6 separate regions of the Homo sapiens genome follow, and all the other regions are linked to region 1. The links come from fine-mapping of genetic effects on gene expression. A gene starts in region 1. Each other region holds a variant in brackets. All regions are shown on one strand. Distances are from middle to middle. Region 1 holds the start of SYT9-AS1 (SYT9 antisense RNA 1). Region 2 overlaps SYT9 (synaptotagmin 9). Region 3 overlaps OLFML1 (olfactomedin like 1). Region 4 overlaps SYT9 (synaptotagmin 9). Region 5 has its middle 6.5 kb from the start of OLFML1. Region 6 overlaps SYT9 (synaptotagmin 9).

The links.
Region 2: its variant is fine-mapped to the expression of SYT9-AS1 in whole blood (TOPMed, PIP above 0.99).
Region 3: its variant is fine-mapped to the expression of SYT9-AS1 in whole blood (TOPMed, PIP above 0.99).
Region 4: its variant is fine-mapped to the expression of SYT9-AS1 in whole blood (INTERVAL, PIP 0.99).
Region 5: its variant is fine-mapped to the expression of SYT9-AS1 in whole blood (TOPMed, PIP 0.98).
Region 6: its variant is fine-mapped to the expression of SYT9-AS1 in whole blood (TOPMed, PIP 0.97).

The regions. Positions count from the first base shown.
Region 1 is chr11:7,463,407-7,467,496 of GRCh38, forward strand. SYT9-AS1 (SYT9 antisense RNA 1) reads right to left here and starts at 2,429. Exons shown (of 5, transcript NR_103855.1): 1 at 2,347-2,429. SYT9 (synaptotagmin 9) reads left to right here. Exons shown (of 7, transcript NM_175733.4): 7 at 3,386-4,090. The coding sequence ends at 3,394.
Region 2 is chr11:7,453,973-7,458,062 of GRCh38, forward strand. The region is part of intron 6 of SYT9 (synaptotagmin 9); the gene reads left to right. It overlaps SYT9-AS1 (SYT9 antisense RNA 1), which reads right to left. Exons shown (of 5, transcript NR_103855.1): 3 at 3,824-3,987. Among named protein-coding and RNA genes, the nearest start is that of SYT9-AS1, 9.8 kb to the right of the region's middle. The variant A/C (reference allele first, on the strand shown) is at 2,001.
Region 3 is chr11:7,486,090-7,490,179 of GRCh38, forward strand. OLFML1 (olfactomedin like 1) reads left to right here. Exons shown (of 3, transcript NM_198474.4): 2 at 2,038-2,326. Among named protein-coding and RNA genes, the nearest start is that of OLFML1, 2.6 kb to the left of the region's middle. The variant G/C (reference allele first, on the strand shown) is at 1,972.
Region 4 is chr11:7,440,366-7,444,455 of GRCh38, forward strand. All of the region lies in intron 6 of SYT9 (synaptotagmin 9), which reads left to right. SYT9-AS1 (SYT9 antisense RNA 1) reads right to left here. Exons shown (of 5, transcript NR_103855.1): 5 at 1-1,354. Among named protein-coding and RNA genes, the nearest start is that of SYT9-AS1, 23 kb to the right of the region's middle. RefSeq lists a silencer at 2,213-2,507 and an enhancer at 2,476-2,525. The variant C/CA (reference allele first, on the strand shown) is at 2,488.
Region 5 is chr11:7,476,942-7,481,031 of GRCh38, forward strand. No RefSeq gene overlaps it. Among named protein-coding and RNA genes, the nearest start is that of OLFML1, 6.5 kb to the right of the region's middle. The variant C/T (reference allele first, on the strand shown) is at 2,111.
Region 6 is chr11:7,428,846-7,432,935 of GRCh38, forward strand. The region is part of intron 6 of SYT9 (synaptotagmin 9); the gene reads left to right. Among named protein-coding and RNA genes, the nearest start is that of SYT9-AS1, 35 kb to the right of the region's middle. The variant T/C (reference allele first, on the strand shown) is at 2,406.

The sequences.
Region 1 (4,090 bases):
TAGGAGTTTGGAAAGGTGTAATTTGCTTATTTTGTTTGATTTGGTTGAGATTTTCTAGTCTTCCCCCAACAGAAGCCAGACAAAAGGGGGCTGAACAACAACAGCAAAATTTACTCATGTCTTCTCCTGAGACAACTTTTTCAGAACTGACTTGTATGCTTGACTTTCCCTAGAATAAGTTTGTTTTCAAGAGGCTTTTCTTGCAATATTGCTGGTAGCAATGACCCTATCACGACACCAGATGTATTGAAACTCCTTAATCCTGTCATCTTGTGGGCTTGGTCCCAGCTCACAAGCATTCTAGGACCTTAGTGGCGCTGTCCAGAAGAGGAAAAGATTCAGAGCCCAGAAAACTCACCCAAGTGAAGGGCTGCACCTTAAGAAGGGGGAGACCAGTAGGCTGCACCGCCGTATTTCCAGAGGCTGACCTTGATTCTGGCTAATTACACACACAAGGAAATTCACCAAATGAGCAAAACCCAGCTATGGAGTTCAGGTGGGAGCTGTGCTATGACTTGGCCATTGGCAACAATGCCAATGCTAGTGGTATCCCTGGGTATGGGGACTGGTAAAAAAAATTGGCTAAGGTTGCAGCCTAGCCCTCTAAGCAGGCTTTAGACAGGCCATAAGAAATCAGGTACAGAGGTGGTCCCTAAGGCTGGGTACTTTGGGAGAGCTAAACCCAAAGCATTCTGAAGGAACTGCTTAAATGAAGAGGTAAAATTAGGTCATAATAGGGAAAAATGAGGTTGTGCACAGAACTGTGGGGGCAAACAAGATACATATGCATGTCACTAGCTGGGGGAATCCAGAGAAATGGGATAAGCAGCTAGGAAACCATAAGTGGGATGTGGCACCTGCTGTATGCTACTAGTTTGGACTAGGGTTCTTAAAGGAAGCTCATCTGGCTAGATTTAGGGAGTCTAGAAAGCCAAGGCAGATAAAGTACTTTTAATACATCAGAAATGTAGACTGGACCTACAGAGGGAATTGACATAATTGCTAAAGCTTGGACTTTGAAATTGGAAGTCTTGGGTTTAAATCTCAGCTCTGACACTTAGTCACAGTGTGGCCTTGTGCAAATTAGTGTCTCTACAACGCTGCATCCTCCATTAAAGAACCCCACGGGGTCTTTTAAGAACTTGTAAAGTCCATATCCCAGTGCCTGGCATACAATAAGTACCCAAAAATGAAGGAATATGGGCTGATACCATCACAACTAATTCCAGACCACATTCATTGGTGACACTGAGCCTGTTAACAATTTGCTTTCTCTGATGGGAAGGAACTCAGGAATTGGCAAACTGATATGGGTATGGGTTTCACAGTTGAAAGAGCGGCTAGGGAACCACGGGCCTGATGTAGATGGTGGCTTAGAAAGTAGAGCTATTCGGGGCCAGGCGCGGTGGCTCACGCCTGTAATCCCAGTACTTTGGGAGGCCGAGGCGGGCGGATCACGAGGTCAGGAGATCAAGACCATCATGGCTAACACAGTGAAACCCCGTCTCTACTAAAAATACAAAAAAAAAAAATTAGCCGGGCGTGGTGGCGGGCGCCTGTAGTCCCAGCTACTCAGGAGGCTGAGGCAGGAGAATGGCATGAACCCGGGAGGTGGAGCTTGCAGTGAGTCGAGATTGCGCCACTGCACTCCAGCCTGGGGACAGAGCAAGACTCCATCTCAAAAAAAACGAAAGTAGAGCTATTTGGATGGTGCTCCAGGGTAGCAGCTGATCTGGCAAACTGATATTTGAACCACAATATTAAGACAAATATCATTCAGTCTTTCTTCCTAGACACAGAAACAAAGACCCCTTTCCCAGAGATGTGTGTGTGTGCCCACACACATGCACACACTTCAAAGCCACGGGTCACAATCAAACGTGGTTTCCCTTTGCAGTGAACACACTGGCTTTTAATACTTTCCTTAAGTAAGTTATAGCCTCACATGTGAACTTTTGATCTCTGAAATGAAGTCCATAAATTTCATTGTCAGAATGGTTGCTACTCTTTTATAGTTTACGTGTAAATTTTGTTATTCCTATATCCATAGAAGTCACTTCAGTTTTTTCTCTCTATGGCCACAGTATTACTACATTTAATCTGTGCTGGAAGGTGCCCTGAGTTTAAATTAAGTTGAATGCTGGGCTGAGTGTGAAACACAAGAGATACTGCTAGTCTAAGTCTGGGGCTTCCTTAAGAGAGCCCCTCCTTCACATCTCGGAAACAAGGAATGATGTTGCACCACTCAGACCTCATCTTTCCATCCCAGCTGTATTAGTCCATTTTCACGCTGCTGACAAAGACATATCCGAGAGTGGGAAGAAAAAGAGGTTTAACTGGACTTACAGTTCCACATGGCTGGGGAGGCCTCAGAATCATGGCAGGAGGCAAAAGGCACTTCTTACATGGCAGCAGCAAGAGAAAATGAGGAAGAAGCAAAAGCAGAAACCCCTGATAAACCCATCAGATCTCGTGAGACTTATTCACTATCACAAGAACAGCACGGGGAAGACCGGCCCCCATGATTCAATTACCTCCCCTGCCGGGTCCCTTCCCACAACACGTGGGAAGTCTGGGAGGTACAACTCAAGTTGAGATTTGGGTGGGGGCACAACTAAATCATATCACCAGCCTTACCTCCGACCACTTCATTCCTCACACTACAGTCCAGTCACACCAAATTGTGATGATTCCTTCAATGCACCATGCCCTTTATTGCATTCTGCCTTTGCACAGTCTCTTTCCTCTACCCCAAGTGACCCTTCTTCTTTCCAGAGGGATTCCTCTTCAGCCTAAATGGCTTAGCTCAAGACTCATCAATCAGAATGCTCTCTATAGACCTCCTCAATCCCTTTGAAGTTACTTTCTCCCTTCCCATTGCCCCTGCAGTATTCTATGCAGCTTCTCACATCATAATATCTCCATCTGTGAGCCCTTTGAAAGCAGGGGGAGTGTCCTACTTATGGGCTTAGTATCCCCAGCATCTATTACCATGCCTGGCACTTGTTTGGTGCACATTAAAAATGTATGAATGGGCCAGGCACAGTGACTCACGCCTGTAATCCCACCACTTTGGGAGGCCGAGGCAGGCAGATCACAAGGTCAGGAGTTCGAGCCCAGCCTGGCCAACATGGTGACACCCTGTCTCTACTAAAAATACAAAAATTAGCCAGGTGTGGCGGCGGGCACCTGTAATCCCAGCTACTTGGGAGGCTGAGGCAGGAGAATTGCTTGAACCCAGGAGGCGGAGGTTGCAGTGAGCCAAGATCGCGCCACTGCACTCCAGCCTGGGTGACAGAGCAAGACTCTGTCTCAAAAAAAAAAAAAAAAGAAAAAAAATGTATGAATGAAAGCCAAATTATTTTTTTGTTTTTTCTTCCTGCAGAAACGATGACCATGGGTAAGAGGACTGCTTGTGCCAAGGACAAAATAGGACAACCATCTCACAAAGATCTTAAGTAACTTTTTCCATCCAGCAACATCCAGACGATTTCAGTGACCAAATGCTCAGCTGTAACCACAGCACTAACTGGCCTTCTTTCCAGATTGGGTTTGGTGAACCTGAATGGTCCAGCCACCTTCTGCAGGTGGCCCAAGGTGATGTGCTGCAGGGAAGCATGTCTCTCATGCCAAGAACCAAGATCGGACTATGAACAAAAACAAATGATAGATATAGTGACAGTACCAAGAGTACCAGGACTCAATGTTTCATATGAAGCCCTTGGTGATGAGGACATAGCATCTGCCCTGGAAATCGTTATTCCAACATAATATTATTTTCTAGAATGCCCTGGAAGGACAGAATATTTAAAAATATATCCAGGTGCTAAATAGGCAGCAGATCTCAATTCACACATGACTACCTTTGAGCTAATGACTGTCTCCAGAAAATAACTGTGCCCCAAGAAGTGCTCCAGATTTGCAAGGAATAGCCCCAAGAGAATACCAAGACAAGCAGGCTGTTCCCTGGAAAAAATCTAATGCAAGGAGGGCTAGTTCACAGCAAATTCACTGCCTCCTCCCATGCACGTGGTAGAGAGTACCAGTATCAACATGGCCCTGTTTTCTGCTAAAACCAGATTTTGAGGAA
Region 2 (4,090 bases), 9.4 kb before region 1:
CCCTCTGTGGTCTCCTCTTGTTTGACAGGCCAGAGGCTCCCAGCTGGCCAAGAGGGCTCAGCTTCCCCACAGGGCAGGATACCAATCCCTAAGTCCAGGTGAGTCGCCCCTTTTCTGACATTGCTGCTCCCCAGTCACTTTTCTTTCCTTTCCTTGCTACCTACCTGATTTCCAGCCCTTGATGAGAGTCCAAGCCTCCAGCTCCCAGAATCACCCTTCATTTTAATACTCAAATACCCTGAGTCCCCACCCTTTCTCTCTAGCCCTTAGTTGATGTCTTCCTCCCATTTGTCTCTGCAGTGGCCTGAGGAATGGTCTTTTTTGCATCTCATGATTCCAGATGATGCTTACCATTTCCGCTCTCTGCTGCACTCCAGGCTTCTCTACAGCCATCTTTAGAGGCCTTCAGCTGCTTCTCCCAGCCACCATCTTCTCCCTGCCCTATCCCCACATCCTATCCCAAGCACGGACACAGTCCCTTTCCCCATTCCCCCAAAGCATGCAAATGCCAGACTATAGCATTTAATGAAGATTTCCTAAGGGCTGGGGATAACACGAGTGAAGACAATGCGAGTAACTGAAATTAAAAATTCTATAGCCAGGGAAAGAAACATCCATCTAATATCATAATTGTCTCTGCCAATAGGAAACTGCCTACGGGGAACACATTTTACATTGTTATGCAGAATAACACAGCCTCTCATTCTGAGATTGGACCTGGGCATTACCTTTAATAACCTAAGGCCCCTGATACCTCCCCAAAGAGCTGTTTCCCCAGCACCCCAACACACTGTCTTGCAGGTGGTTTCTTCACTAGGGTGCCAGGATGAGGAGATGTGTGAAGCTAAAGTCAGCTCAAAGTCAGCTTTCTCTCCACTCACCAAGTGGTGAGTTTGCCTGGAGGAGGCTTCTGTTTCTAAGTCACACAAAGGCCCAATGCTAACAGCATGGCTGAGAGATACATGCCGTGGCCTACTATCAGCCACAGTGTATAGAGGACAGCAGATACACAGATGAGAGAAAACGAATTCAGCTAATAGGTTTTATTTGTTTTGACATTGTGAGTATCTTTGAGATGAAAAGCTAATAGTTGGAATAGTGCCAAAAATCTTAATATTATTAATAACATATCAATAAAAGCCTCTAAACCTTTAAGGATAAAAGAAAGTTTCTTATCTTGTATCCTCTTTTCAAACACATTTAAGGGCCTTTGTTTCTGTCTCTTTCACTGAGAAAAAAAAAGCAAGCTGCAAGACAATACATTTTCTAAAATTAGCACACATTTAATTGACTTTTCAAAATGAAGTTCTATTCAACCTATTAGATGTGTATATTCCATACAACATTCCAATGTTTAAGCTATTTTTTTTTTTTTTTTTGAGACAGATTCTTGCTCTGTCATCCAGGCTGGACTGCAGTGGCGCCATCTCGGCTCACTGCAGCCTCTGCCTCCTGGGCTCAAGCGATTCTCCTACCTCAGCCTCCCAAGTAGCTGGGACTACAGGCACCCGCCACCACGCCTGGTTAATTTTTGTATTTTTTTTTTTTGTAGAGATGGGGTTTTACCATGTTGCCCAGGCTGGTCCTGTACTCCTGGATCCAAGTGATCCACCCACCTCGGCCTCCCAAAGTTCTGGGATTTAGACATGAGCCATTGTCCCTGGCTCATTTAAGCTAATTCTGAGACTTTTTCCCAAATACAGAAAAACACATCTGTAAATCACCATTGGAGAAAGAAAGGAGAACGTGAAGGTCCTGGGAAAGGGGTGAAGGCCCCTGCTTGAGGACTTCATGGGGTTGGTACTTAGTCCCTCATGGTATCACAATAGGCTATGCATTCTACAGCTGCTCTTTGTGACCTGTGTAAATTCTGGGCAAAAATGGCCTTTCCCTGGGTCATGTCTGCTAAAGCAAGTATCACCATCCAGTCAGATGGGGCTGATCCCAGCAGGTGCCCAAGAAGGAAGTCACCCACTGTCTAAAAGTCCTACATAATCCTC[A/C]GGGTTCATTTTAGGTGCCACCTCCTCCATGAAGTTTCTAGTGAGCAATGCCCCATTTGGAATGAAGTACTCCCTTAATAGTTTGATTGTATTTAGATTGTATTTGATTATACATTTACCACTTACCACCTCTCATTTTTATTTTGTAGTTAGTTGGATACATCTGTCTTCTCTCCTGATGTGAACTCTTTAGGTCTGGGGCATAGGGTCTGTCAGTACCCACTAAATTGACTATTTTTAGTTGATTTGGACTTACTGCAGACCTTTTACTAAACATGGCAATTGAGCTTTTGCTCTCTGATCATGGAGAAGTTTCCAGTATGCAATAGTCAGGAGGCAGGAGGGGGCTGGTCAGTGTGTAAGTACTCAAGGGAGGATTAAAACAAGGTACAGTCTGCACACAGCTCCTCACAGTGGGTGGAGGCACCCAGAGGAGAGAGGCAAGCTGCCTGCACATGCAGCAGGCTGGTTACACCTCCCTCCAGTGTCTTCCCCATGTCAGGCAAATGAGAGCTAGAGGACCTTGGGATCTTGCTCTTTAGCCAGAAAATGGCCACCCTCCATAAGTGGTAATGGTGATATCCTGAAATCAAGTTCACAGGTGAACAGATCTAATGTCCATTTTATTGTTCACTAAAGTTTAGGGTCAGTTGAGAGTGGGTGATAAATATATGACTCTTCATTCATTATCTCTTTGGTATTTATATTTTTGACTTATTTTTTCAGAACTCCATTGGTCCCTATTCAGGAAATGCTAAATTTAAACAGCCCCGTCCTGTTTTGGGACCAGCCACCTAGAGTTCTCAAGTGCTAAAGGCAACGACCTCCTTCCCATCCTCACTCACCAGTAATTCCACAGGGCCAGGCTCAGTGAGATCTGTCAAGGCAAGAGGGGTGCTTCAGCTGATCCCATACTATCACTCAATTCTGGTTTTCTGACTCTCTTATTTGTTTTCAATCCAACCTCTACACTCCTTCAAGTACTAAAGTACAAATCTGAGCATGTAACTCTCCCACTTAAAAATCCTTCAATAACTGCCCTTCATTCTGAACAAGATCAAGATCGAGTTCCCTACCTTGGCATTCAAGGTCCTCTGCGACCCTGCCTCCATCTCCTCCTTATACTTTATGTTGGGGCCACACCTAATGGCTGGTGGTTCACACAGTGCTTTCTATTCACCCCCATGCCCTTGCTTCTGCTTTAACTTTTTCTTGTGCTGTCCTTTCAACCCCTCTTTTCCTGCCTAGATCCAGCCTGTCTTTTTAGCATCTAATCAGTTGTCAGCTTCTTCAGGAAGCATTCTGAAGATCCTGTGGTATGAGCTAAATGCTTCTCGTCTGTGCTATCCTCTCCTAGCACCCTGTGCCTGCCCCTGACATAGCATTTGGTGCCACTTGATATTATCTGTGTGTGTGTCATCCCCAGCACCTCCCACTGCTCCTTGAGAATGGGCCTAAGTGTTATTCATCATTGTATAACAAGCACCTGGCAAAATGCCTGGCACAAAGTCAGCATTGAATAAGTTCTTGTTGGACAGAATTTCAATTTCTTCTATCTTACAACTTGTAAAATGATTTTTACAAGTTTTACTTACTGATTTCTTAGATAAATTCTCCATGTCAATTTTTCTTCAAATCTACAGGCATAGTGGTTCTATTAATGCACCAAAGCAACTGAGAGCTAGCTCTGAATGCCAAAGAGCCAGGCAACACCCATGAGAATGAAGACAGTGGCAGTGAAGGTCCCAGTCATCATCTCAGATGGATTTGCAGTGTCATGAGGGCTCAAACAGTTCTCATAAAGGTCTTTATAAGAGACTTACCTTAGTTTAAAAGGCAGGTTGGGAAACCCATGACCATTTCCTCCAGAAAGCACAGAATTCCTGCAAGCCTGGGGTCACTATTTTGGCTGCCATGCTGTCAGCTTATCCCAGCAATCTTTCAAGGTGCTTCACTGTATGGCATCATTTGCTGTATTGTAAGAATTCTGTTCAAGTAAGAATCAATCAAGCTTCCTTTGAAACAATCACTTTGCATAAGGAAATGGGAGTTTCAAGGATGTATTTATTTGTTCAACAAATATTGATTGA
Region 3 (4,090 bases), 23 kb after region 1:
GTATTTTTCCCAGATAGCAAATGACACATTGCCAAAGTTACACTTTAAAATGCTCATAGTCTGGCAGTTTAGAGCCGAACTCCAGAGTCCAGTGTGCTACTTCCAGACCTTAAGCACAGTTGCACTTTGTGCTCTGATTTGGCAGTTTGTCTCATCTGTAAAATGGGGATAATAGTAGAATTTATGTTGTAAGGCTATCCTGAAGATTTAATCCATAGCTAAAATACTGCCTGGCATAATGGTATGTATCTAAAATGTTATTATTCACCATAGTTCATTTTTTAAAATATGAAACTTAAAAATGTTGGTTACTTTTTCTTCATGTTTTAGTGTTTCAGGCTGATAATGGATTTCAGCTTTTCGTTTTGTCTTTTATGATAAACCATTAGGTCACTGTAAAAAGTCATGATATCAATGTACTGAGAAGTCTTAGTTTCTTTTGCTGAACTGGATTTAGACTTAGAAGTGAGCAGATTTCAGCCAAGTTAAACAGAAAGAATGCATTTGGGCTGCCACCTCATTAAAATGTGCAAAACCCAACATTTTGGCAGCCTGGACAGGCTCCCAGGGACAAATGTAACCCTCCACCCTAGCCTTTGCCACACCCTGGCATTGATTATTCATACTTAATGGCTTGCTTTTGTACAAGCTAAATTGATAAATTATTTATCTTCTTTCAAAGACCCTCTTATTGCTAATAATTATTTTATACATTTTCCTGAAAAATCTTCATGTCCAAATTATATGTTCTTCTAGTTATAGTCAGGGTAAAGTAATTCCACATAGCAGGCCGAATGCATTTCCTAAGGGCGTCCAGCCAACAGGCTGGGGCCTGGAGGCAGTGGATGAAGTGTTCCCAGACGAGCGGCCTCTTGCGCTTCTTCACTTGCTCCCTCCTGAGCCTCACCTCCTTAGAAGTGCCAGAATGATGCTCAGTCAGGATCCCTCTGCATTTAGCACCGACTTGCCTTGGGAGTAAAGCCAGCCAAATCCCTGCAAATTGTCTTTCACTACCTTAAGAACTTGTCAAGGGTATGAAGTACAGACTGATCCTTTTATAGCTATGAATGTGGATTTGAAAAAGACAAGGATATGATCTGTATAGATCTTCCCACCCCAGTCCTGACCTGAGGTGAAGCCAAGTCGCAGGTGGCAGTCACTGTTGGCCAGCGCAGACACTTAACAATACAGTGATAGCATTCCCAGCCTGAGAAGCCAGTGTCGGAGGGGTAGGAAAAAAGAGGGTAGGGATTTAGGGAATTATTTTGGGTCTCTCTTTCTGTCTTTCTCCCTTCAAAATAAACAGCCTTACGTATTGTTGTTTGGAGCATACATTTTTACATTTGTGGATAGAATTTTGATAAACCATGCCAAATGAGCTTTAAGTAGACATTCTCTTTGACCAAGCAATCCCATTTCCATTCATTTATTCTTTTGTTCAGCAAATATTTATTGAATAGTATTATGTGCTTGGCCCTGTGCCAAGTGCTAGGGACGGATATTCTGGAAATCTACCTTAAAATAATCTGATGAAGATGTAAATACAAAGGTTTTTTTTTCCCTTAATAATCTGATGAAGATGTAAATAAAAAGTTTTTTTCTCAGCATTGTTTGAATGACAAAAAATTAAAAACTATGTAAATGTACCTCAAAAAGAGTCTAACAGAATAAATAATGGGATATCAATTAAATGGAATGCTCTCATTAAAGTTATGGTATAGGTATACTTTAATTAGTATCAAAGTATGTTCACAATATATCTGCAAGTGAAAAAGATGATACAAAACATATAGTAAAATCACATTTTAAAAATATATATTTACATATGTATGACTAAATGCTTGGGAAAACTTTTAAAAACTGATATACTCAAGTATCAATACTACCTTTGAATTTAGGAATTATGGGAGATTTCAATTTTTCCCCTATTTGATGATGTGTAATTTTCTAATCCTTTTCTATAAATGATAG[G/C]TATTTATATTATTTGGGTAATTTAAATAACAAGCAATAATTTGCAAATTTATTTTCTGACTGAAGCAAGGGCTGGAAAAATGTACCCAAGCAACGAGGGCATACATTCAAGAATTCCAAGAGTTCTCAAAAAATATATCTGTCATGCTGGGAAGATGTCAGACCTACACAAGTGAGTACAAGAGTGCAGTGGGTAACTTGGCACTGAGAGTTGAACGTGCCCAACGGGAGATTGACTACATACAATACCTTCGAGAGGCTGACGAGTGCATCGAATCAGAGGACAAGACACTGGCAGAAATGTTGCTCCAAGAAGCTGAAGAAGAGAAAAAGATCCGGACTCTGCTGAATGCAAGTAAGAAAACTGCATCTTTTCCTAGCCCTTCTAGGGACTATTATGCTCAGAAACACACAGACTCAGAGCAGTCAGGGAGCATCATAGAGTAATGAGAGTAAGAATTGGAGGTGTGCTTTTGTGTGCATTGCTGAGAGAGAAAGCTATACAGAGAACAGGTGTCCAAAGAGAAATCCATTCTCGCAAAGCCATTCTTTCTTTCACACACAGTGCCTAAAGCCTCCATAGATGGTGAAGGCTATAGTGCCAAAAGTCAGCCCAAAGAGACTACCTCCTGATAAATCTTGGTTTGGTGGAGATGTGTGGTCCCAGATTTTTTCAGGGAAAGTAGCAGTTTGGTGGATTCTACATCCAGTACCCAGGCTGTAGATAGCATCTGCAAATGTACCAAGAAACAGTCTTAAATTGGAAATGGCAACAGCCAACCCTCAGGGATGGGAACTGCAGTGAATCACTATTGTGTGTGCTGTCTGAGATGGTGATATGCATGGGATGTGGTCTAATCTTGTGATCCATCAGAATCACTTCCAAGCCATTAAGAATAATGTGTAGCAGCTCAAATTATAATAAACAGTATCAGGCAATAAACACACAAATGACAAAGAAAAATTTTCTGTGCCCGAGTCTATTTCATTAAAACAATGAGGGAGACAAATCTCCCACTTCAGGGTTTGTATTCTGAGATGTTTTCATTGCAAATAGGAAGACTTTATTTACATGCTAATTACGTCTGTTCCAATTCAAGAACCTCCATCAGGGAAATGACATATAAGCTGAGTGCCATCATTGTGCTAAAAGTTTCACATACCTTCTCAATGTAATCCTTCTAAGAACTTCATGGTCACTATAAGGAAAAGGGTCTTCCTAAATGAGGTGACACTTGGTCTCAGTTTTGAACAAAGAAGTTAGAAACGAATGAGTAGAGGGTACTTCAAGTCAGGGCACAATATACCAAAGGCATGAGGGTACTGTAGCACCTTGACATGTAGACCCGCAAATATGGCTGAGTGAAAGCTTTTTAGAGAGGTGACAGTAGGGAAACTAGGTTGAAGAGCTCAGCAGGACCCAGTTAATGAGAGACCTTGCATGCTAGATGAAGGAAGTTGAAGCTCACTGGAGAAACTATAGAGAACCATTGAGCAATTTTAAACAAGGGCATGATACGAAGGAAGAGGCTAAGACTAGAGAGAGGAGACCAGTCAGGGAATGCTGCAATGATTTGGGCAACAAGTAATAGTGTTGGCATTAAGTGTCATGGGACAGAGAACAGGTGGATTTGAGAGCCATTGAGAATTGGAATCCACATGGCTTTCTGACTGCTAATTAAAACTAAATGATGAGTGAGAGAGATGAGTCCAGGATGTTTCCCAGGTTTTGGGCTTAGGTCATCGAATGGTTGGTATGAAATATGCTGAGATGGAAAACTCAAAAGGAGTTTGGGAGCACTTATTACTCTATAATTTTTTTCAGACCATTTATAATTTTGAAACCATTTAGTTCATTTATTGGCTCATAGGTTATTTCCTACCTCCCTATCTGTAATGTCAGCTCTATGAGAGCTTGGAACCCCAGTTTCATGTTCAATGCTGTGTCTCCAGTGCCTAGAATGGGGTCTATTCAATAAATAGTTTTCAGTGAGTAATTAAACAATTAAAACAAATAAATGAGTAGATGTAGGGATTGTCAACACAGGCAGAGGGGTTAGTTAGGCTTTGGTGGGGGGGGGGGCGGGGAACCAAAAAACATCTTATCCCTGAGTCAGAA
Region 4 (4,090 bases), 23 kb before region 1:
GACCCCCGCTCACTTAAGTGTAAAAAAAATGCTGTGTTTAGAAGCTCAGTAAGATCACAGTTAGTGACTTTTCCCAGAGGGGGTATAAGAAGTTTCATGGAGACCCAAAAGGTCTGATGGCAAGATACCTTCCCAATGTTGAGTAAGGCGCCATAGTCTGCCAAAACTCTTCAAAGCCACTGCTTCTCATGGACATAAACGTTCCACCAGAAGTGAACATGGTGGTATTTTTTGAGTGGAACAATGAAAGATGTGAGAATACAGGTGGTATTTTCATTGCTTCTTCCTACTGCCCTTTGGAACTCTGGAAGACTGAAGAATATCTAAAGATGATCAGTAGTGGACTTACAAGAATAGGTTGATATTTAGAATGAGGTTCTGAAACACAGCTTAAGATACCAGAATAAATCATTCTAGCCATGAGTGCAGAGAATCTTACAAAGACATGGGGGACTATGTTGCTTAGCGACTGATCAGCTGATCTCATCAAGAGGATTTAAAAACTGATACCAGGAGGAAGAGTAAGACAACACAATAAAATAGACAACCCACAAGACCAGTTGCTATGAATGACATCCAGTGGGATGTGGAAAAAAAGGGTTCCAGGACAGGAGGTTTCCAGTGATTCACAGGAGATAAGATTGAATCCTAGATGTAAGTGATGGCCATGGCCTTGGGTGTCCTAATGCATCCTGCAGAGAGAACAAACAGAATAACCCAGGACAATGATCACAGCCTTGTAGATATAACTGGCACCCAAACATGTCAACAGACCACTTAGAAGCAGACAGATTAATGTGCTATACATGCCTGAAGAGCTGTGTACCTAACGTTGAAAGCTCATTGATACACATATTGTGGGCATTAGCAGAAATGAGCCTGCCAGGGAAATATGACAGGTGGAGAGGTGAGACTCCTAAAACAAATCAAAGCACTAGTACAGAGATAAAAATCCAGTGGTGAGGGAGAAACCCACTGAGGAGATGTTTCCTGGAAGTCTTCTTTGGTTAAAGACAAAGTGAAAACTTCTCCAGTTGCTTTGCTACAAGTATTAGAATACTTTTGATGTAATGAACAGAAATCCTGACACAAACTAGATTGAACAAAGAAACTGTAGCATCTGGACAAAGGGTCTAGAGATAGGATTGTAGATTCCATGGTTAAGGATGGGGGGTTCCGGGATTGTAGATTCTGTGGTTAATGATGGTATCAGGAACACCAGTTCTTCCCAGGCTATTGGGCCATCCTTCCTTCCTTTCTGTTCATCTTCAGGTTGGTCGCAAGATGGATGCAGGTCTAGGCATTGCATCCAGACATGAAAGTAGCCACAGGAAAACGCACTTCTTGTAGCTCTCTGTTAAGAGCAAGGAAAAAATTATTCAAGTGCCCAGCAAACTGGCTCCTTACACATCATGGCCAGAAGTATGCCAATTTTTGAAGCAGTCACTGGCAAAAGGAATGGGACTGTGTGGGCCCAACAGGTTCAGCCCTGGAGATGGATCCCTTCTTCTGGGACACCAAGAAAAACACCATCCCCTTCTCCCCTGGCAATACCCAGCCAACCTTCCAGCTATGACTCTCCCCCACAGGCACCCTGTTTCTTCTCATGACAACTCTGCACTCCATTATCCACCTCCTGGGAGCAAACCATTTTGTAGCCTATTCCAAAAAGCTCAAGCCAGCACAGACACCACAGGGCAGCAAACGAAATCTGAATCTCAAAGCTTGCCAGACCAGCAGCGCCCACTGAGAAACTCTCCAGATAAGAGATGATCCCAGGAACCCCACCGCCTCCTGCCATGTCTCTGCACATGCCATCAACGCTCTGCTCTCAGTGAAAATGGCTGAGGGGAGGAGCTTTTCCTCTACAGACCCAACGCTGCCATTTCCCACCCCTGTGGTGGGACTCGAAGAGGGGCTGGAGAACACGTCTCCACACACATACAGCTGTGGCCTGCTTTTGGCTCTCTCCTCCCACTCTTCTGCAGCGCAAACCAGGGTGGAGGATGGTGTCAGACCCGTCTTTCGGAACACTTGTCATTTCAAGAACCAGAGAGGCAAAGCCCTTCAGGCATGTTTGGAGTCCCAGAGAGCTCAGCACAGGACTCGTGCTGCCAACACTGTGACTCTAGACTATCTTGCTGGGAATCGGGATTTCAGCTCCTCTTTCCACACACCTTCACCCCCAGCACTGGGCACCCACTTCTGCAGCTCCCCACTCAAATTGGTCCCCCTCCTTTATGACACTGGGCTTCTCTGGATTCCTGTCAGCCGTTTTCTCCAGTCCTGGGGCTCTCAATATCTCCAAATACTCACATGGGTAATGGGTTCCTTGACCCAATGACAAGCATCTGTCTCTCAAAGAGCAGTAGGCCTTTCCTAGGGCCTCTGCCATCAGCTCTGCTGCCCTTTGCTGCCCTCCCCTGGCCATTGACATCACTGCAGGTAACTCTTCAGGACTCTGATGGGTTCATTGATACATCCATT[C/CA]AAAAAAAAAGTATTTAGGGGCCCTGTGTACCACGCGATGTCCAGACACTGAGGATTCAGTGATAAAAACACATGGCGCCTGCCTTCCAGGAGTACACAGTCTAGTGAGGAAAATGAGAGAGAGGGAGAAAAGCAGAGAGAGAGAGAGATAATGAATGAATGAGAATGAGAATGAAAGAAGGAATGAGAATGAGAGAGAGGACTTTTTGAATGGGAATGAGTGGATTCTGGTGTGCCCTTGTGGAAGTCTAGATTTGCTCATTGTTCTGCAGACCCGACTGCCTAACATGTTCACCTGAAAAGGAATCCCCTGGCCTCCCCTTTGGAAGTGGAGTTGGAGAATTTATTTTAAACCGAATATTTCTGAGCAAGTGCAAAGCACCCTACCTGGCACTGAGGTATAATGGGGAAATGCTGGTCCCATCCCCCACAGAATTTACAATCTGGCTGAGGAAATAGACATAAGAAAATAATTAGATTGTTTAATAACAGTTATGGTGTTACCTGGTACTGTATTCTGTCTTAGTCATACCTAGCAAGAGCTCCACACAGCAAGGATAGGGCATGGGGTCCATGTTTTAGGGGGTAGAAGGAGTGAACCACAGAGAGCACAGCCCGTGCACATGGTAGGCACCTCAGGAAGTGCTGAATGCATGAAAGAGGCTGCGCAGCAGACAAGGCTCCTGGGAGCCAAGGCCAGTGTCTCCAGCCAGCTCAGCTGAAATCAGCAGCTCATGTGCTCCGTTCTTCACCTTCAGCATGCCCACTTCATCCTGAAACTCTCTTCTACCCACCACCTCATCTCCAGATGCAGATCCTAATGTCCCAGACAGGACTGTTGGCAGGTTCCAAGTCAAGTGAAGGATAATTCAAGAGCCACAGTCCAATAGTGCAGGAGCCATATCTGCTCTATTTGCCATTGTATACCCAATCCTTCACATAGTACCTGGCACATAGGAGGTACTCCATAATTCTGTGACGGTTGTTGAATGAATGCATGGATTTTGCATAACTATTCAGGCAAGAGCTTAGCTTCTATAGAGAATTTGGTCATGATTGGATTCATTTGATCAGTGGAAGCAGCCATTCCAGTTTACTATAGAAGTAACATTCCAGTTACTATAGAAGTAGATTTAGAACCTAATTTGGCCTATTGGCTACAAAAAGGGTACAGACTCTGAGTTGTAGTGAGACTGCCAGTCTACCTGCAGGTCGATGAGGGCTCCTCCATCCTCCCTGGGCTGAGATTTAATAGTGCCTCTTTTTGCTCAGCCTGCTCTCTAATCCTCAGGGTGAGAGATCAGTATGAACTGACAGGTCTGAGAAATCTTCCTAGGGGAGGAAGAAGGGTTTCCAGCTGCAAGGAGAGAGCAGCGTGCAGTGACAGTGAGGCACCAGGATGTAGAACAATGCTGCCAGAACATATTCCCTGAGGTTTGGGAATGAACTTCTTCAAGGGCTGTGCTCCCTTTTTGATGGGTCCTAGTGGGCCTCTGTGCTGGTCGTGACCGACTTTTCTTCAATGATCCAGTGGAGGCTGCAATGTATTTTGCTTAAAACTACAGCTGGTTTATAATTTTGGCCTCAGACAGTAATTACAGCT
Region 5 (4,090 bases), 14 kb after region 1:
CACTTGGGAGGAGCCACTGCATTCAAACCTGGGCAACATAGTGAGGCTCCACATTGAAGAAGAAGGAAGAAGAAGAAGGAGGGAAGAGGAGGAGGAGGAGGAAGGAGAAGGAGAAGAGGAAGAAGAGATTGGAGGAGGAGGAAGGAGGAGGAGGAAGAGGGAATGGGGGAAAAGGTTGCATTTTGGGGAACTTCTCACTTATGTCAAATCATAGGAAGCAGAATAGACTAGAACCCCCTCTCTCTCCACCATGTGAGAATATAGTCAGAAGTCTGCCATCTGAAAGCCAGGACAAAGGTCCTCACCAAATCTGCCAGCACCTTCATCTTGGTCTTCCCAGCCTCCAGAACAGTCAGAAATAAACATTTGTTGTTTAAGCCACCCAGTCTATGGTATTTCGTTATAGTAGTCTGGACAGACTACGTTGGTGACACAGCAAACTGTGTGTGGAGATAGAAGGTAACTAAATGTATATCTGACAAGAATTGGAGATATCACAAGTATTTACTTATGACTGTCATTTTTGACCGTCAATGTAAACAATGTTATCAGCCCCTAGTTTTACGGGGCCTTCTAGAGGGCTCTCTCCTGACTCCCTAACACAATTAATTGAAGATTTTTAAATGATTCCCCAAATATATATCATTATCCACTAGAAAAATGTTCACTTGCTTCAACATCCTCTTGCCCAAAACTTCTCAGTCAGAAAACTGTTCTTAATATCGAATTTAAACTCCTTCTTCAATACATCTATTCCTTTTATTCCAACCTGAAGCAGAATTTAGTCATGAAATTCCACAGATTGCTCCCTATAACTCCACTCTCACATCTTTCTCTTTTACATAACCCAAAGATTTGGAAAGACAAGAGTAGACAATAAGCAAATGAATATATCTGGGAGAACATTATAGTACTTAAGAAAGAACACTGCTTCATGCCCACTCAGCACCTCTCACTCATGTGACCTCACAACTGGATTCTCTTACACTATTTTCTGAGTGTGTGTGTGTTCTAGTAATTGTAAGTTCCTGAAAGGCAGAGCCATGTCTTCTAATTTTCATAGCACTTTGGCTCAAGAAGTCAATAAAGACATGTAGCCATAAGTTGGCACACTTATTAAAACCATTCTTATTCTTTACTTTCAATAAAACCAGACTCCTAAGGACCCTAGCTCTGATTTTCATACAGACTGACAGATACTAACTCTGAAATTTGTAACAATTAATTTGGTATTTGAGGCCTGCCCTTCTTCATTCAGTGCCCTCTCCCTCACCCCAAGTGGTCTGCATTTGGGAGGTGTGATGGTCCTTACCAAGGTCTCCCTGGACAGTCACCATGGAGTCTAGAGGGTTTAGGTTCATCTTTTACTGTCTCTGTGTGATGGGGGAAGGTGGAAAGAAGATGATTTCCTCTTAAATGGTGGAAGGGCCTCTCAGATTTCATGTGGATTATAATATGATTTTGATAGTCGGGAAAAAAAAACTCTTTACGGACTAAGAAGAAACAAGATGATCCTCATACCCTGAAAAGTCCTTTCCAACCTTCTCTGTCAAACTTCTGTTCTTCCCTTGGATGCAAATGCATGACAGAGCTTGCAGTGAGCTGCAGAAAGTGTTGGGAAAAACCCAGAGATGAAGAGAATAGAGACTTCCAAGAGAGCGTGTAGTCAAACATCCACCCCTGCCTATCCCAGTGGGTCCCACAGGTCTCTACTGGAGTCATGAGGTGGTGTGTCCCCTACTCATTGCTAAGACCCATGAACTTGGAGGAGACAGTCCAGGGGCCATGATCTGGAAGGGGCTGAAGTGAAGCAGAATAACAAACCCACATCCAGTTCTAGATCCTGCTACACAGGAGAGCCAAGGCAAGTCATGGAAACAGGTTATGATCCCAGGAGAGAGACAGAGAGCAGCTGAGTGAGCAAAATAGGGGGCAGCCTCAAATGATTTCTGAAGCATAAGTCTAAACCTAATGCCAAACAGGGCTTTTTCATCTGCTCAGAGTCTTAGCATGAGAATTAGCTTCCTTTATTTACAAAGATTGGACAGAGACAGGGAAAGGGAGACAGAAAATATAACAACAGACACAGGAACTCAAAATCCCTAGTTTT[C/T]CTTAGCCAGTAAGTACCAAGGCAGACATTTCTATATACTTAATAATCTCTGAAAGGTCCCTATACATGATACAATAGCTGATATCCATATGGTCATCTTACGACATTAAGAAATGACTTTGAAAAAGTAAGTTTGAAACACGCTTGGGAAGATTTCCATTAAAATATTTAAAGTTAAAAAATGTTTTGGCATCACTTTTTGACCTTTTGGCTAAAGTCAAGTATAAAAAATGTTTTGGCATTTTCCCAAGGGAAAAGGAATCTCATGTTTTCTGAAAATTTATTTATGAGGACTGTCTCATAGAGAAATGAGATGACACATCCACAGTATCGCATGGTTTGTAAATATAACATTACCAAGAGCCTTGTCTTCACAGGTATGTGGGATAGGCTGAACTAGAGAAATCACCTCAAATCTCTCCAGTTTGCTAAGGGCTAGAGACAATTGAGCCCCTCAAAAATATATGATTTGGGGTCTGTACTAAAATCTATTAAGTGGGCCCCAATAATAGGGCTGAGGAACTTACGTGCATCCATGCAAACTTCCAGGTGTCTTTCAAAGAGGCCATCAGGTAATACAACCTGGTTGCAAGGTGGGGGAGGGATGAATTATATAAAGGGCCAGTTCTGGAGGCAGACATAAGCCCAGGCCAAGAAGAAAAGTACCGTTGGTTCAGGTGTTAGTCTAGGCAAGGGCGATCAAACAGGGCTGCAAAACTGAGTAGGAGATACATTGCAAAAAAAGCAGGCGGCCGAGATTGGAACTGGAAGAGGCAATGCTCAATGTTCAATGCTTACAGGGAGCCTCGCTGGTCAGAGCTACTTTTTTTGTTTGTTTTGTTTTTTTGTTTTTGTTGAGATAGGGTCTCACTCTTTCTCCCAGGCTGGAGTGCAGTGGTGCGAACACAGTCCACTGTAGCTTCTACCTCCCCAGCTCAAGCAATCCTCCTATCTCAGCTTCCCAAAGTAGCTGGGACCACAGGCTCATGCCACCATGCCCAGCTAATTTTGTGATTTTTCATAGTGATGGGGTCTCACTTTGTTGCTCAGGATGATATCAAACTCCTGGGCTCAATCAATCCTCCTGCCTCGGCCTCAGAGCAACCTTTAAAGGGCTGTCTGTGTGTGTCTCCCTCCATAAGGAATGTAACACATACTCCCTCCTCCTTTGCCTATTGATTACTCACGTTATAGATCTTAGCTTAGATGTAGTTGCAAAGACTTCCCTGAGCCTGAGAAATCTACATGTTCTTGGGAAGGAATTGGCAGACAATCAAGGCTCCTAAGCAGGGAAATTACACAATGAGGTTTGCATACTGGCTCCCTCACTCTGGCTACAATGCTGACACTAGACTTGAAGGGGTCAGAAGGGAGCCTGTTGTAAACAACACAGGATCTGGCCATCAACCTGACTCCCTCTCTTGCCTCTCATTCAATCACTAACCAAGCTCTGGCAATTCTACATTCTAAATATTTCTCAGAGGCAACCAGTTAGCTCTCTCTCCACTGTCACAACTCTAGTTCTGGCCCTCATCATTCTCTTTTCAGATTATTCTCACAGCCTCCTAATCCATCTCCCACCTTGAATTTAGTCTTGCCCTCCAATCCGTCCTTCACCTGGCCTCAAGAGAGACCTCTGTAAACACACATCTATTTATGTGTTATTCACTTGAAACTCTAATTGCTGTCTCACTGTTCTTACCATACACCTAAAATGTTTGGCATGTCCTACAAACTTGGCAAGGTCTGGCTTCTGCCTAACCTACTGAAGTAGACACTGATGCATCTCCCAAATTTACTCTTTAGGAGGACATTCATTTCCCAGCTGTGCAAACTATTAACAACTCACAGCTGAGTCCCTTTCCAGGAATTGCCCTCATCCAAAGAAAAGTGCCTCACTCAAGATTATCTACTCTCCCTCCTTGGGCACAGCTTTCATCCAATGACTGCTTGATGCGGGAGTGCCAAGGTCTGGTTTCC
Region 6 (4,090 bases), 35 kb before region 1:
CAAGTTGAGGATTTTGAGCCTGGGATTCAAAGAGTCTTGGGGTGTAAACTGTTGATGCTTTCTAAGGAATAGAAATTGGGAAGTCCCATGAGTGAATACTTAAGTTGTAGTAATGAAGACAATAGAATAGTACAGCCAAATTAATGGAGGGTCTGTGTTGGAATAGGTGGTTTTAGTACTCACACTCCAGCAACAAAAAGCAGAAGGGAACCTCACAAAAGATCCTGCCCAGTCCTGTGGGCACCCATACACCGACAGAGTGAATATTTATTAGTTGCCTCTCCAGCATCAAGCCCCTTTTCTGATGGCCCTGATTTCTGATTAATGATTCTAGGGAGCCTGGCTCCATCCTTGTCTCTGGTGATGGTACATATGACAGTTCCAGGCTAAACCTGTCAAGCTAACCATAAGGATTACCACTGCATACGCTGATTCAGTCCAAGAGTATTATAAAACATTTGGTGTGAATGTTTGGACAAAGATGCTCTCTCTTTCTTGTTGGATATAAACAAAGCACTATATACCCTGGGAGCAGCTGTGGCTTCTTTGGATCTCTATAGAAGATCCAGGTTTAGGGAGAAACCAAGCCCATAGATACAAAGAAACCAGATTCTCAGTCATGTGGTTGAGCTCCTAAATCAAACCTCTCCCAAACATAGTGTTACCTCTGGCCTTTATAAGTATGTAAACGTATATATTCCCTTGGTTGTGTAAGCAATATTAAGCAGAATTTATTTTATTTGAAATGAAAAACATCTTATTTAGGATACAGGTGAACACTCACACTGCCCCAGTTGGTGTTCTTTGGGAGTGAAGAGAACCATTCCCAAAGCTGTCGCGAGATCAGCTCTTCTGCCTGGCTCACTGCGGTATGTCCAATACCTAACAAAGTGTGTGGCCCACAGTAGACTCCCATTAAAGTTTTCCTAATGGAGCAAATTATTAATGTTCAGATAATTAACTTGTGTGTTAAAACAAGCATGGTGAAAAGAGGGACACTTGACTCTCAGTGACATACAAATATTATATAAGGTTAAGAAAAAAACTATTTTCCTTTTGCATTTATATGTTATTCAAATTCTACATGGAGTCTCAGGGCCTGTGGGAAGCTCTTCATTTTATGATCACTCCCTTGAGCTGATAAAGGCACAGTTCCTCAGGAGTGAAGATCAGTCACATAGCTGTCCTTTCCCTTCAATGTCTTATGTGATGTACTGCAATTCATTTATTTACAGCAAAAATGAAGATCTACACTCTTTTAACACAATAATTTTAGCAATTCTAGTATTATTTTTATTTCTACGTTATCTATTTTTATGTAAAACTCAAATGTATATTTAAAGTCTTCAGTCATTGGTGGTAGAATTACATATTTTTTTCGCACCTTAGATAAAATTCAGGATGTAAAATGTGATGATATTGATAATCAAAATGCTTGAAATAAAGAAAAGAGGGTTTCTATAAAGCAAGGGGAACTTTACCATTCATTGAGAAATTATATAATGCAATTGTAACTTTTAGGTATATGGTACACTATGATGAGTTATACTCAAATTGTCAGAAACAGAAGCAGTTATGAATAAGGCAGGAAAACAATAGGGTGATTTTTTCCTTCATAGCTTAGGATCTGAATGGTGTGTGCTTAGATGCTTTACATATTAATAGTAAGTGTTCATATTAGTAAAGTTTACTAAAGAGCGGTCATAAAACCAATTAATATGGTTTAAATATTTGTCCCTGCCCAAACCTCATGTTGAATTGTAATCCCCAATGTTGGAGGTGGGGCCTGATGGGAGGTGCTTGGGTCATATCCATCATGGCTTGGTGCGGTCCTCTTGATAGTGAGTTCTTGCAAGATCTGGTCATTTAAAAGTGTGTGGCACCTTCCACCCTGCCTTGCTTCTGCTCTGCCAAGTGAGATGCTGGCTCCTCCTTTGCCTTCTGCCATGAGTAAAAACTTCCTGAGGCCCCACCAGAAACCAAGCAGATGTCAGTACCATGCTTTTGGTACAGCCTGAAGAACTATAAGCCAATTAAACCTCCTTTCTTTATAAATTGCCCAGTCCCAGGTATTTCTTTATAGCAATGCAAGAAAAGCAGTACCAGAAGTGAAGTGGGGTATTGCAATAAAGATACTTGAAAATGTGGGAGCAGCTTTGGAATTGGGTAATGGACAAAGGTTGGAAGAGTTTGGAGGGCTTACAAGAAGACAGAAAGATGAGAGAAAGTTTGGAACTCTCTTAGGGACTGGTTAAATGGTTGTGACCAATATGCTGATAGTAATATGGACAGTGAAGTCCAGACTGATGAGACCTCAGATGGAAATGAGGCTCTTATTGGGAACAAGAGCAAAGGTCATCTTTGTTATGCTTTAGCAAAGAACTCGGTTGTATTGTGTCCATACC[T/C]TAGGGATTTGTGGGAGTTTGCACATGAGAGTGATGATCTAGAGTATCTGGCAGAAGAAATTTCTAAGCAGCAAAGCATTCCAGATGTGGCCTGGCTGCTTCTGACAGCCTAAGAAATGACTTAAAGTTGGAACTTATATTTAAACAAGAAGCAGAGTGTAAAAGTTTGGAAAATTTGCAGCCTACCGTGTGGCAGTAAAAGAAAAAGCTTTTCAAGACAGAAATTCAAGCAAGCTGTGGAGGAACCACTTGCTAGAGATATTGGCATAACTAAAAGGGAGCCAGGTGCTAACATCCAAGACAATGGGAAAAAGACCTCAAAGGCATTTCGGAGACCTTGGCAGCAGCCCCTCTCATTACAGGTTCAGAGGCCTAAGAGTGATGAATGGTTTTGTGGGCCAGGACCAGGGCCCCACGGCCCTGTGCAGCCTCAGGACACTGCTCCCCACATCCCTACTGCTCCAGCTCTAGCCATGGCTCAAAGGGGCCCAGGTCCACCTCCAGCTGCTACTTAAGAGAATGCAAGCCATAAGCTTGGGCAGCTTCCATGTGGCATTAAGCCTGCAGGTGCTTAACTGTGGGTACCAGAGTGAAGGTTTAGCAGCTTCTGCCTGGATTTCAGAGGGTGTATGAGAAAGCCTGAGTGCCCAGGAAGAAGCCTGCTGCAGGGGTTGAGCCCTCCCAGAGAACCTCTACTAGGGCAGTGCTAAGGGAAAATGTGGGATTGGAGGTCCCACACAGAGTCCCCACAGGGGCAGTGTCTAAGGGAACTATGAGAAGGGGGCCACCAGCCCCCAGACCTCAGAATGGTAGATCCACTGACAGCTTGCACCCTGTGCCTGGAAAAGCCACAGGTATTCAACCCTAGCTCACGAGAGCATCCCTGGGGGCCAACCCTGCAAAACCATAGGGGCAGAGCTGCCCAAGGCCTTGGGGGCCCACCCTTTGCACCAGTGTGTCCTGGATATGGGACATAGAGTCAAGGATTATTTTGGAGCTTTAAGATTTAACAACAATCGGGCATGGTGGCTCACGCCTGTAATCCCAGCACTTTGGGAGGCCAAGGCAGGTGGATCAGTTGAGGTCAGGAGTTCGAGACCAGCCTGGACAACATGGTGAAACCCTGTCTCTACTAAAAATACAAAAATTAGCTGGGCATGGTGGCAGGTGCCTTCAATCCCAGCTACTCGGGAGGCTGAGGCAGGAGAATAGCTTGAACGTGGGAGGCAGAGGCTGCAGTGAGCTGAGATTGTGCCATTGCACTCCACCCTGGGCAACAAGAGTGAGACTCCATCTCAAAAAAAAAAAAAAAAAAAAAAAAAAAAAAAAAAAATATATATACATATATATATATATATATATATATATATATATATATATATATATATTTAATGACTGCCCTGCAGGGTTTAAAACTTGCATGGAGCCTCTAGCCCCTTTCTTTTGGTCAATTTCTCCCTTTTGGAGTGGGAATGTTTATCCAATGCTTGTACCTCTATTGTATCTTAGAAGTAAATGACTTGATTTTTTATATTACAGGCTCATGGGTAGAAGGCACTTACCTTGTCTCAGATGAGACTTTGGACTTTGAACTTCTGAATTAATGCTGGAATGACCTAAGACTTTGGGGGATTATTGGGAACACATGGTTGTATTTTGCAATATGGGAAGAACATGAGATTTGG